Homo sapiens: one gene and its partner. The protein of the gene in region 2 purifies or fractionates together with the protein of the main gene of each other region. This does not show direct contact. Each region holds a gene or a part of one and is shown on either strand. Other genes may lie near its edges.

Region 1 (7,026 bases), on a different chromosome or scaffold from region 2:
AAAACATTCTATTTTATGAATATACATACTAATATGAGAGAAAATAACTCAAGCCATGTAGATTCCTAGGAGCTAGAATACTCAGTCCTTAACCAGGGCCTGTAATTTATAACCTACTTTTAAAGTCTTCAGATTCCTTAAATGACATATAACAAGAAATGGTTTATCTTCTAATTTCACAATATTTATTTTTAGCTTAGTACCTTTTATTCATTTATATTTTTTCTTATATAAAAGCAATAAATGCTACTGTCTCATACCAATTAGGACAGTTAGTTATTATATTAAAACAACAACAACAACAACAAGTATTGGCAGTAATGTGGAGAAACCGGAATCCTGATACACTGGTGGTTGGAATGTAAAATGGGGGAGCTGCTTTGGAAAACAGTATGGTGGTTCATCAAAGAGTTAAGCTTAAGATTACCATATGATCCAGCAATTCCACTCCTGGCATATAATCCCCAAAACTGAAAGCAGGGTCTTAAAGAGATCTGCATACCTATGTTCACAGCAGCATATTCACAACAGCCAAAAGGTGGAAGCAACTCAAGTGTCCATTAACCAAAGAACGAATAAGCAAAATGTGGTATACACATGCAATATTACATGGAATATTATTCAGCCTTAAAAATGAATAAAATTCTGATCCACGCTACAATATGGATGAACCTCAAGGATATAATCTAAGTGAAATAAGCCAGTCACAAAAAATTTTGTATGACTCCACCTATGTGAGGTGTTTGAGTAGTCAAATTCACAGAGACAGAGGCTGTGGGAAGAAGCAAATGGAGAGCTGTTTAATCGGTACAGGGTTTCAGTTTTGTTAAGATGAAAAACGAGTTCTGGAGATTGACTGCATAAGCCTATGAGTGCACTTACCACTACTGAACTATTCACTTAAAAATGGTTGAGATGGTAAATTTTATGGTATTTTACCATAATTAAAAATTTTTAAATGAAAAAAATACACAAGGAATAAAGTCTTTTTGACCAGTTGGACATTTTATATTAAAAGCAAAAAACGCTAAGTAAAGAAACTCTGCAAAATACCCAAGGTGAAAGAAGAGAAAACAACCCATTGGCTTATAATTAGTGTTACAAAATTTAATAAAACGAAGGCTGGGTCGCACATGGTGGCTCATGCCTGTAATCCCAGCACATTGGGAGGCTGAGGTGGGCAAATCACTTGAGCCCAGGAGTTTGAAACTAGCCTGGGTAGCATGGTAAAACCACATCTCTACAAAACAACAACAAACCACAAAAATTAGCAGGGCATGGTGGCACATGCCTGTAGTCCCAGATACTCAGGAGGCTGAGGTGGGAGGATCACCTGAGCCCCAGAGGTCGAGGCTGTAGTGAGCTGTGTTCGTGTGCCATTGCATTCCAGCCTGGGTGAAAGAGCAAAACTCTGACTCAAAAAACAAAACAAAACAAAACAAAAAAACAAAAACCCCACAAAAACAACAAAACAAAAATGAAGGCTGTATTTTTCACTTAGCTTTATTTTCTTCTGTTAACATACTTTTTAGCTTTCCCTCATATTAACATTAACCAAGTATAGTGAGTCATCTGTAATTCTTTTTGGCTGCCTACCATATGAACTTTTTTGCATTTGAAAAACCTCCAACCTTATCAGCTAGAGCCTGCCTCTCACTGTGGAGATACTAAGTGCTAGACTTCTCTTTCCCATTTTTCCCTGCAGCTTGGGAGTAGCTGTGTGACCCATGTGTGACTTGGGTCTATCAACCAGACACATGTGCTTTACACTCTGCATGGAAAGTTAGTGATTCAAAGAAGCAGTGATCACAGATAATTTATTCTGGCAAAAGTGCCACAGCTATATCCAGCTCTAGAAGTTGCACTGGCAGTGTGAGGTGATTTGTGCTTGGCAGTGGCGGCAGTAATAGTTTCATTGGGCCAATTCTATGCCTTTGGCTCTGAAGCCTCTAACACTGGTCTGAAGACACCTACATTTTCCTAATGCCCTTTAATCCCTTTTCTGCTTAAATTAGGGTTGATTTTTGGTGCTTATAAGAAGAATTTGACTTATACATGTATAAAAGGTTGTCTCCTAGTCTTCACTATAATAAGCAACCTAGCATAAATATCCTTCTCATCATTTCCTTTTAAATTTCTAAAAGTCAAAATCTAGTTGCTTTGTCTTTAAACTGTAAATAATTCTGCCATTATCTTTGTGCATAGGCTATTCTCCACATTTTTCTGTTTTTAAAAAATAGACTTACAGGTGACTACTATTTAACACTTATTTACAAGCCCACAGTATAAACTCCCCAACCTCAAAATAAAAAATCCTGAAAATAATTTACTCTCTCCCATCTCAGTCATTATTTTTCAGAGTAACCTAGAAGTAGGAGAATGATAGCAGTGAAACCAACTGCTACAATGTAACTTCGTAATTTCTGACACTGGGAAAAGATAATCATTTTCAGAACAGGGTAAGATATTTCAATTAAAATACGGAAAAACTATGCCCAAACGACCATTAAGAATGGACTATCTAAAAATAAAGAGCCTATAAATCTAGGACTGAAATGTTGATGGGCAGTAGCCTGTCAAGGTGACCAGGAGCCAAAGGACTCAGTGCATTCCAGAGTCACAGCGTGCTTTGCCTGGCTTTCTCAACTGGGACTCATATATGCTTCAGTGCTTTTTCACCAATTCTAAATGTCCTTACAAATACAAATGAGCAATGGAAATAGCCATTAATATCTTTCAGTGGAAAGCCTTAAAGATAATAAAGAACACTGTATCAGAGAAGAATAACGGTTAATAGTTGGATTAAAATAACTTTAGAAGTTCTCCTCAAGCTATAATTCTGAGTTTAAAACTTAAAAGCTTTGTTATACTCCTATGCTATGGTAAAACTGTAACAGAAATGTTTTTCTTTCCTTTTTTTTTTTTTTTTTTGACAATGTCTCACTCTGTTGCCCAGGCTGGAGCACAGTGGTCCACTGCAGCCTCAACCTCTTAAGAGATCCTCTTACCAACAAGCCTGGGTAGGTTTTTTTTTTTTTTTAATTTCTTGCAGAGACAGGGTCTCGCCATGTTGCCCAGGCTGGTCTCGAGCTCCTGGTAAGCAATCTGCCCACCTCAGTTTCCCGAAGTGCTGGGATTACAGGCATGAGCCGCTGTGCCAGCCCAAAAACATTTTTCTTAGAGTAGCCTATGGCTTCACACCTCCCCCATTCTATAAACAGTAGAGACAGAGCGTACTCACCTCCAAAGTCACCGCTCTCACCAGCTCTGGATTAGAATTACACAATGCTCCTGCAAGCACCCCTCCAGCACTGAAAGCAGTCAGGGTTGTTAGACTTGGCTGAGAAAAGCCTTGGCCATGAAGCGTCTTAATGCAAGCCTCTAAATCAGCAAGGCCATTGAGTTTTTTAGTTAGGCGGCCATCAGCGTGCCACTGGAGGCCTAACTCACCACCACCTCTGAAATTGAAGGGCAAAAAAGTTTTAGTGGAAAAAAAAAGTTAATACTGTAGGCTGGGGTCAGCGAACTACACCTGGAGGCCTGTTTTTTGTGTGGCCCTGGAGCTAAGACTGGTTTTTGCTTTTTAAAGGTTGAGTGAAAACAAGGAATGTGCAACAGAAACTGTACGCGGCCTGCAAAGCTTAAAATGTGACTATGTAGCTCTTTAGAGAAAAAGGTTTGCCAACTCCTGATATAGACAATCCAGAATTGATTCAACGAATATATTTTGAGTGCCTGCCCATTTATCAGGGATTAAGTACAGACCTTAAAAGTAGAAACAAACGAAAATCCCCTACCGTGGAGAAGACAGTAATTTTGTGGGGTAAGAAAACAACGACTTACCCAGCAATGTGGTGTCATTGCTACAATACAAGTGTATTTAAGGTATTACAGGAGCAGAGGAAAGAACATCCATCTGCCAGGTGAGGGGTATATACACGAGTCAGGAACACAAATGCTTTTAAGGAGATGATGCCTAAACTGAGTTGTGAAGGAAAAATTTGAGTTTCCAGAGGGCAAAGAAAAGGCATTAAGACACAGATACGACACAGCATGTATAAGGGCAAGGAGGTGACAGAGCATGTCATTTAAAAGACATGACTTTGGGGGCTGGACACAGTGCCTCAAGCCTGTCATCTCAGCATTTTGGTAGGCTGAGGTGAGCAGGTCACTTGAGGTCAGGAGTTTGAGACCAGACTGGCCAACATGGTGAAACCCCCGTCTCTCCTAAAAATAGAAAAAATTAGCCAGGTGTGGTGGTGCGTGCCTATAAGCCCAACTACTCGGGAGGCTGAGGCAAGAGAATTACTTGAACCTGGGAGGCGGAGGTTGCAGTGAGCGGAGATTGCGCCACTGCACTCTAGCCTGGGAGACAGAGTGAGACTCCATCTCAAAAAAATACAAAACAAAATAAAAAAAATAAAAGGACATGATTTTGGAAGGCTGAGGCGGGCGGACTGCTTGAGCTCAGGAGTTCGAGACCAGCCTGGGCAACATTGGAAAACCCTGTCTCTACTAAAATACAAAAAAATCGGGCTGGTACGGTGGCTCATGCCTGTAATCCCAGCACTTTGGGAGGCTGAGGCGGGCGGATCACTTGAGGTCAGGAGTTCGAGACCAGCCTGGCCAACATGGTGAAACCCCATCGCTACAAAAATTTCAAAAATTAGTCAGGAGTTATGGCAGGCACCTGTAATCCCAGCTACTCAGGAGGCTGAGGCAGGAGAATCGCTTGAACCCTGGCCAAGATCATGCCACTGCACACTCCAGCCTGGGCGACAGAGCAAGATTCTATCTCAAAAAAAAAAAAAAAAAAATTCAGACAGTGTGGTGGTGTGCGCCTGTAGTCCCAGCTACTCAGGAGCCTGAAGCATGAGAATCACTTGAACCTGGGAGGCAGAGGTTGCAGTGAGCCGAGATTGTGCCACTGCACTCCAGCCTGGGCGACAAAGCAAAACTGTCTCAAACAAAAAAAAAAAAAAAAAAAAAAAAAGGGTCTGATGCTAAATGCCGCTACAGAGATCCATCAGACCATTAGGAGTATTATACTGGGGAATCTGGACTGTGTTCTAGAGATGGGGAGGTGGAGAAGAATTTTAAGCAGAAATACAAAATAATATTTGTGTCTTGAAAACAGCTGAAATAAAATGGAAGTTAAATGGAAAACAGTTCAGATTCAGAGGCTACTTAAACCTGAATTCAGGAGAACTGAAAGGAAATAATAATATTACTAAATAAGTACAGAGTCTGGTACCTCTATGCAAAAATCCTAAAAACCTATCCTTTTGCTTTTTGGATCAACTAATCTGTTAAAGAATCAAGTTTCACCAGTGCTGGTTTAGGAATACAAAAATTGAATAATAAGAATGAAAAAAATAAGCTTTTGTTCCCTGATATATATTGTTATTCTTGACATCTCTCACAATGGTCTAGCACTTACATGCCAGGTAAAATATACTGACTCACCGAACATGGCAGTATGCTAATATCCATCCATCATCCACCAGGACCCGCCTCTCAGGCCTGAAATTCATTTTCAAATCCATTCCATAAGCTCCATATACATGTACCAAGAGAGGTTTCTTCTGCAAGTCCTCAGAGTCAGTTTTGTGGAAAACAGTCATTGGCACTAATTTTCCATCCTAGAAATGAAGAATTACTATGTATGTAAAGAAGAGTCTTTTATAATAACTGTTTTATCCCAATTTAAAATACATTGAGGTGCACTGTCCCCACTTGTGTGCTACCTACTGATGTTGAGCACAAATTTGTTTAAGAAAAAGAATTATGGTCTCTAAAAATAAATCATGGCTTTTGGTTTCAGCTACCTTGCTGTCCTACAGTATTAACCAGAAAAGAGCAGCAAGACTGGCCTGAAAACATTTTATTAAATGCAGCTTTTCATGACAATAATGTAATTTTAAAGAGTTCTTCACTACCTACTATAATTTTAAATTTTCAGATGAAACCAAAATACTTACCAAGGTTAGAAGTCCTAGTATAGCACTCTTCCTATGCCTAAGAGCTAGATATTGGCATTTTTCACTTTTGAGTATCTACAAATATGCTGACTAAAGTCTTACCAGCTCAATTTTCTATATCCTCTGTAGTCGGAATTCTCAACCATTAAGACCTGAAATCTTACTGATGTTACTGATAACTACCACAATCCTCTTCAAAGGCCCATTTAACTTTATTAAAAAAAATTTAAAGTGGTCTTAAAATTTTTCGGTAAAATTCTTTGTAGGGTTAAAGTAAGTTAAATTATTTGTAAGGTTACTAAGTTACTTGTAGGTTATGTAACCATCCCCCAATGTAGCTCAAACTCATCAGTTCCAGTTGATTGAAACTAGGCAGTCTCTGAACAGACAAAAGAACTAATTCTGATCTACCTTTCACACAAAAAAGATAAAGAAATTGGTTTTCACCCTGCTTAAACTAATGAAATAGCACCGTTTACATAAAGAAAATAAATAATACATCCAAGTCACTCTTCATATTTTCATTCTCATTTTGAAAACTTCACTTTGGGGCAATAACTGGAGACAGCAAAATGTAATCAAATAAGGAGGAAATTCTCCTCTCATTCTTCTTTAAAATACCCAAGTTGTTATGACATTGTTAACTTTCACTTTTAGTAAGATTCACTTTTATAAAACTTGATGTAGATTAATTTCTATAAAACACTCTTGGTCTTTTCACTTCCCAACTCTTCCCCAACTTCAATTATACAATCAGAAAAAGTTGCTTGTTGAAAAGTTTTGAAAGGAAGAGGTAAAACAGTAGCTACTCCTGTGATGGGCTGGATCTGGGTTTGCCAGCAGTACTAAAATGCCTGTGGAAAGGTATAGCGCTTCCATTCAGCAGCTGCTTCCCTTCTCCCCTCTTGGCTCTCCAAGAACATGGTGCTTAACTGTTCTTTCCATCTCGGGTCCAATAATTGCAACATTTTGATAGACTAGTCTAATTCCATGTTTGTAAAACCAAATAAAACCTATCTAAAAGATAATACACTAAGTGGGTAAC
Region 2 (7,026 bases):
GGTTATTTTACTCTTCATGAAAGCTTTGGCTTACTGTTGGGTGTTTATTTTATTGAAAGCAGTATATAGATTTAATTCTTAGATATCCTCATTTATGTGTATTACACTCTTACTAATTTGTTAACTGAATGTATGTGGTTCTATCACACACATACTGTGAAGTTCGTGCCACACTGCATGAGTTGGAAATCAGCTGTCCTGAGAGCTGACTGAAAGGCAACATCCCAGACCATGGGATTTTTAGTTAAAGGATTTAAAAGTTACACTTAGCTGTAAAAAATTAAAATTAAGAACCTTGGTTGCCAGTTAATCCCAGTTTTTTCCCCACACCAATCCTGATTTGTGTCTACTGTTGGTATCTTAATCTTGTTAGTCTCTACCAGTCTGTGCCTTAGTAGCACTCTCTGTAAAAATGGGAGAAAGCAACTATTTTTATAACAAAGTAGATTTGCCTTGCTCATAATTCTGAGGATTAGGAATAAGAGTCTGTATTTAATTCATTAATCTTTGAGGATTTGGTGAAATGTAAAATAATGATTGCTGCACCTTAGGGGGATCAGTTCTGCAAATTTGTGTAAGATAAACTGGAGCAGAAAAAGATGAGATAAGGAGATAAATTAATAGGCTCCTAAAGTAATCCATGTAAGAGGTAATGAATACTTGAATGTGGTTAGAAGAACTAAAAGGGAGATCCCTGATACAGACAACATTGTAAGGATAAAGTCCAGAAGCCTTTGCAGATTAAATGTGGAGTGTAGGCCAGAGTAGCAACAAGTAAGGGAATGAATTTGGATCTGGTCTAGGTGATGATAGTTTGGTCTCCATAAATAGAAATAATGGATTTGGGAAGCATTTGTTTTGGTGGAGTTAGTAATGTTTGAAGCTTATTGTCAGGACTTAGAAGCCATGTAGGTATTGGGATCAATGAGATGAAGATGTATCTCAGGAGATAGTTGGGGATTAGAGAGGTAGATTTGGTAGATAATAAAGCAATAGTTATAATTGAGATCATCAATAGGGAAACTAGAGGTTAAAATCCTTGAGTTGGAGGATACCTGGGAAATGTGGGAAAAGTCAAGGATGGTAGGATCTAAGAAAAGCCTCTTAAATTTGGTAATATGGTGTTCAGTAGTGTGACAGCAGTAAAATAAAGAAATAAAGGTTTCTTCCTTCCTTTTCTTTCCATGTGTGCTTAATACATATATGATGCGCAAATATCTTTTTTTAAACCTGAGTTGAAAGTTATAATATTAATGAAACATTTCTTAAGAACAAAATGGTATTATCTCCTGAATACCATAAGGAAGCAGTATTAAAGAGTTAGGCTTTTAGTATTATTGCCATCTTTTCTACCCTGTTACCCTTTTCTCTTCCCTGCCTTTATTCCTTAACTCTCCACGAGAAAGGCATCAGCCTTTGGTCTTCAAAATAAGAACTAGTACAAAAGATTTCATGAGAAAAATGGATCCTGAAAGCATATATTATTGAGGATTTTTGCTTTTCTATACTGCTAAAAATGCCTGCATTTTAAGTTTATCATTAAGGTGAGCTTTGGAAAAAATTTTAGCCTAATGTCGTCTTCTGCTATGGTTGAAAAATTGCAGGCTTTGGCATAGCTGTCCCCAAAATATCTTAGCACACTTTTTTATTTTTTAACGTTTTGAATTTTTTTTTCTTTAAGAGAGAGACAGGCTCTCACTCTGTCACCCAGGTTGGGGTGCTGTGGTGTATTCATAGCTCACTGCAGCTTTGAACTCCTAGGCTGAAGTGGTCCTATCACCTCAACCTCCCAAATAGTTGGGACTACAGGTGTGCCACCATGCCTGGCTAAATTTTTAAAACAGTTTTGTAGAGACGGTTTCTCACTAGGTTGCCCAGGCTGGTCTCAAGCTCTTGGCCTCAGGTGACCCTCCCACCTCAGCCTCTCGAAGTGCTGGGAATGCAGACGTGAGCCACTGTGCCCAGCCAACACACGTTCTTGACACGGTGAGGACATGCTCCATACCATGTCCACTAAAAGTCTGGGTAGAAAAATCAGTTCCAAATGCTGAAGGAAATGCCTCCAGCCCACTGTATTTGTGAAGAAAATCTTGGGTATCAGGGCTGCTATTTTAATTTTGCCTTAAAACAAGCATTGCTCAGAATACATGTTGTACCAAAGAATATAGACTTGACTTTGCTTGTACATGTGACTGTTTTAAGAAAGCAGTGTCGAGGCCACAATTAGAAGCAGAACACATTTAGTTTCTTTGCCTGCAGCCCCAATGTCTTTGGTACATCTGTGTCCTAAATCATAGTTGTAGTAATGTTTGTATTCATCACACAGCATCAAAAATTAGGTAAGTATGACAGGCAAGTGCCTAGTGTGTTTTAGTGGTATTTTCAAAATGAATTCATGTCACACCCAAATGAATTGCTCTCTCAGGGAACCCAGTAGAGAAGGTTGTACCTGAGTTAACTTCCAGAGCATCCTCTGCCTATCTGCCTATTTCTGCCAGTGGCCAGAATGAATTTGTGTGGTATATTTTTCTCCTAATTTTTATAGCTTTTAATGTCTACCTAATGCTCCAAGTTTAGTCTGATTATTTAATGTGCAGAAATCATTAAAACCATTTTCTGCCTCACAAAAAACTAAATCATTGGCTGTTACTAAACAATAATTAAGATTTATACTTCATAGGTATGTAAGTATAAAATCAGCAATAAAAAGACCAGGTGCAGTGACTCACACCTGTAATCCCAGTGCTTTGGGAGACCAAGGCTGGCGAATCACTTGAGGCCAGGAGTTTGAGACCAGTCTGGCCAACATGGTAAAACCCCATCTCTACTAAAAATATAAAAATTAGCCAGGCGTGGTGATGCACACCTGTAATCTCAGCTACTAAAGAGGCTGAGGCATGAGAATCTCTTGAACCCTGGAGGCGGTGGTTGCAGTGAGCTGAGATCGCGCCACTGCACTCCAGCCTGGGTGACAGAGTGAGACTCTTTAAAAAATAAAAAAAAAATAAAATCAGCAATACAAGTTTTTGTGAGCAAGAAGAAGCAATTTTGTTCTTGCTTCTTTATGATTAACCTACCCAAGAACCTTAATTACTACAGAGATAAAACTAAACTGCTTTTTAAAAAATAAAGTAGCAGTAATAGTTATGCTAAATATGTAATATTAGCATAACTAATATTAGCTATTAGCATAACTAATATTAGCTATTAGCATAACTAATATTAGCTAGCTATTAGCATATTATTAGCATAACTAAATATTACATATTACTAAATATGCTAATAAGTAATAGTTATGCTAAAAATGTGTCAATTTAGTGTCAGCAACCTTTTTTTTAAATAGATGTATTCGGGCATTAACGATACAGATTTTTGCACCCCAGTTAGACTGTTCCTGCTTGTGTTGATATTCTATTATTGCATAACAAGTTACAGTAAACTTACCAGCTTAAAATAATACCTGTTTGTTTTCTAACAGTTCAATAGGTTAGAAGTCCTGGCATAGCATGGCCAGGTTCTGAACTCATGGTCTCACAAGGCTGAAATCAAAGTGTTGGCCAAGGCTGGGGACTCATGTGAAGCTTGGGGTCCTCTTCCAAGCTCATGTGGTTGTTGACAGAATGCAGTTCCTTGGGACTGTAGGACTGTGGCCCTTGTTTTCTTTCTAGCTCTCAGCCAAGAACCACTGACAGCTCCCAGAGGCCACGTGCAGGGCCTTGCCATGCGTGGTCTCCATAGGCGGTTCACAACATGCATGTTTGCTTCTCCCGGGCCAGCAGTTTTATCTCTTTACTTCAAGTCTCTTCTTCCAGGAAGGCCTAATTTCTTTTAAGAGATTACCTGATATATCTGCCCTCTCCAGGGTAGTTTGCCTTTTGGTTAACTCAAATGCAACTGATTTGGAGCCTCATATATCTATAAAATGCCACCAATTTTGTCACATAATAGGACCTAATAATGGGAGTGACATCCATCATATTCACAGGCCAGATACAGTCAAGAGGGATGATATGGGGCATGTACACCAGGGGCAGGAATATTGGGGCCATCTCAGAATTCTTCCTACCATGTTGCCATAAGTAAAGGGGTCTTCTCAAATATGCTCAACAGGTGCTAGCTTTTATCTTTCATCAAATTTTTGGAAAAATAATACCAAAATATTAACTGAGAAATAATTTTTCCTTAGATTTTGTGTCATCCTGAAGTTCTTTTTAGATTATATAAAACAATTTTTTTTCTTAAATTGGAAAAAATACTTTCCAAAATACTTATTGGATATTAAAATGTTCCAAAAATTATTTTAAGAAAATATATTGCCTAATACCACTGTAACTTAGCATAGTGAGTTGAGGGCTTAGCATATTTAGTAATCTAATTATATCCTCTTACAAGACAAAAATACCTTTGTTTTACAGAGTAATACAAAGGCAAGTCTGTAACTAGTTATTTTTCATTCTAAAAGATATCATAGGTTAGATTTGTTATATTAGATTGTACTGATGGCATATTAGCAAAATTAAAAATGGTTTGATTTCCTGGTCATAAATAAGCTGATTTGCACTATAATAAACAATGAATAAACAATAAGTGAACAATGATGTAGGAAGTATCCTGGTGAAAGCCATATTTACAATAAACTTGACACTTTTTGAATGCCATGTGAATATTATTTCATGAGTATAAAGGATGAGAGTGGTTTAATTAATTGTTCATCTACCAAATAACGTCCACTGCACAGAAAAAAAGACTAATTTCCTTTTTAAAAATCACTACTTATGCCCAATTTTAATAACATTTTAATTGTTTGGCTTTTGAAAATATGCAAATATTAGAACGTGACAAATAATGGTCAGCAGACCAGGTAAGAGACAGGATTTAATTTTCTAGCTCAAATTACTGGTTTTTAATTATAACCTTGACATCTGTATATTTCTGTATCTTTTCTCCACATCTCACCTGCGTTTTCTGAAAGTTCTGTTATATTCCTTATTGCTAATTATGGTTATCTACTTTGCTCTTATTTCCAGGGATGCTCTCAAACTTGTCCAGTTGAAACAAACGGGCAAGATTACCGAGTCCAGACCAACTCCAGCCCCCACAGCCACTCCCACAGCACCTTCGCCCCTACAGGCCACAGCTGGACCATCTTATCCCCGGCCTGTGATCCCACCAGTATCAACTCCTGGACAACCCAATGCAGTGGTAGTGTTCTCTAAGTGGATTTTTATTTCTTTTTCTTGTTTTTCTTTTTTTTTTTGAGACAGAGTCTTGCACTGTCACCCAGGCTGGAGTGCAATGGCACAATCTTGGCTCACTGCAGCCTCTGCCTCCCAAGTTCAAGTGATTCTCCTGCCTTAGCTTCCTGAGTAGCTGGGATTATAGGCACGCACCACCACACCCACCTAATTTTTGTATTTTTAGTAGAGACGGGGTTTCACCATGTTGGCTAGGCTGGTCTCAAACTCCTGACTTCAGGTGATCCACCCGCCTTGGCCTCCCAAAGTGCTGGGATTACAGGTGTGAATCACCGCACCTGGCCTAGATTTTTATTTTTCAGATTCAAGTGTGAGAGAGAAAATAAGAACAATTACTATGTGTTTTAAGAGTAGATTTAAAACAGATTAGTTTTATTAATCCGTTTCAATAGTAGCTAAGTGATAAGGATAAAACACTCCAAATGCTTTGTTTTACAGATTTCCTATCAGAAACCAAAATTTGTTTGTGTGTTAACTTCCAAATAAACATTAGAACTATAATTCAATTTAAAGTTACCACAAGTTCCACAACTTCAGTAACATATATATTCTCTACAATCTCATGTTTCATGTCTTAAGTGTGATACTAATAATTAGTAGCTGACACTAGCTCCCTTTTGTGGATATGTTCTACTTTTTAACTAGGGAATTGATAATCTCACTATGAAGAACTATGTAGCTAGTCATTCTTTCCTTCTCAGATGCATGCAGTATAACAGCCCCTTTTTGTTTTCAAATTACTCCATTTTGCCTCTCTGTGCCTTTCCTATTCAGGTTATTTTCTTCCTATCAGAAGAAATGTAGGATAGCCCAGTTTATTTAAAATCGAATGGGCACTTAAAAAAATAAATAGATAAATGTGTACTCCTAGTGGAGAACTATATACCATATGATATTTTAAAAGAGTTGAAAACAGTACAACTTTCATGGGAAACAGATTTTTAAATATCCATTAATGATTAATATACTGCATACTTGAATAACCTGCTCTTTAAGGACATGCAGTTGGATAAGATACTATGTATATTGAGTGTATAGTCCACTCTTTGACTATATAATGTATATGGACTATGAAATATGTATAATTCAATCATATGTCTTTTAAAAGTAGGTTATTCAAGGCTGGGTGTGGTGGCTTACACCTGTAATCCTAGCACTTTGGGAGGCTGAGGTGGGAGGATTGCCTGCACCTAGGCATTCAAAGACCAGCCTGGGCAACATAGTGAGACCTCATCTCTACAAAAAAATTTTAAAATCAGCTGGATGTGGTAGTGTGTGCCTGTAGTCCAACTACTCAGGCGGTGGAGATTGGGGAATCACTTGAGACTGGGAGGTTGAGGCTGTAGTGAGCTATGTGCACTCCAGCCTGGGTAATAGAGGAAGACCCTATCTCAAAAAAAAAAAAAAAAAGTTATTCAAATTAAGGAGGTAAACCTTACTTTCAAATTCTTATGGTATGTAGAGAGCATTTATTCTACTTGACCAAGTACTTTGCTAACATAAAATGTTTAATTTCTTAATGATATTTGTAAAAATGAAATCAGCCGCACTTTCATTTGCTTTGTATTATCTTGAAGTGATTGTAATGAAATCCCAAAATAGAGTGAAGGACAAGAAAGGAATTAGATATAATTTAAAATCTGTCATGCTTTTTTGAGAGATCCAAGGAACAGAATGGAAAAACTACAGTGAAGTTATAGGAATATTTTATTATCTCATTCATACTTTCTATTATGAATCTGTAAGAAATAAGATACTCATGTTATTTTTA

Evidence for each region.
Region 1: the proteins of PDHX (region 2) and PREPL purify together in Homo sapiens (affinity purification with mass spectrometry; 2 studies listed by BioGRID and IntAct, with this or other methods). This does not show direct contact.

What each region holds. Positions count from the first base shown.
Region 1 is NC_000002.12:44,323,471-44,330,496, forward strand, and holds part of PREPL (prolyl endopeptidase-like), read right to left. Parts: intron 5,643-7,026; coding exon 5,467-5,642; intron 3,459-5,466; coding exon 3,242-3,458; intron 1-3,241. UniProt on the Homo sapiens protein: Serine peptidase whose precise substrate specificity remains unclear. Does not cleave peptides after a arginine or lysine residue. Regulates trans-Golgi network morphology and sorting by regulating the membrane binding of the AP-1 complex.
Region 2 is NC_000011.10:34,961,613-34,968,638, forward strand, and holds part of PDHX (pyruvate dehydrogenase protein X component, mitochondrial isoform 1 precursor), read left to right. Parts: intron 1-5,027; coding exon 5,028-5,202; intron 5,203-7,026.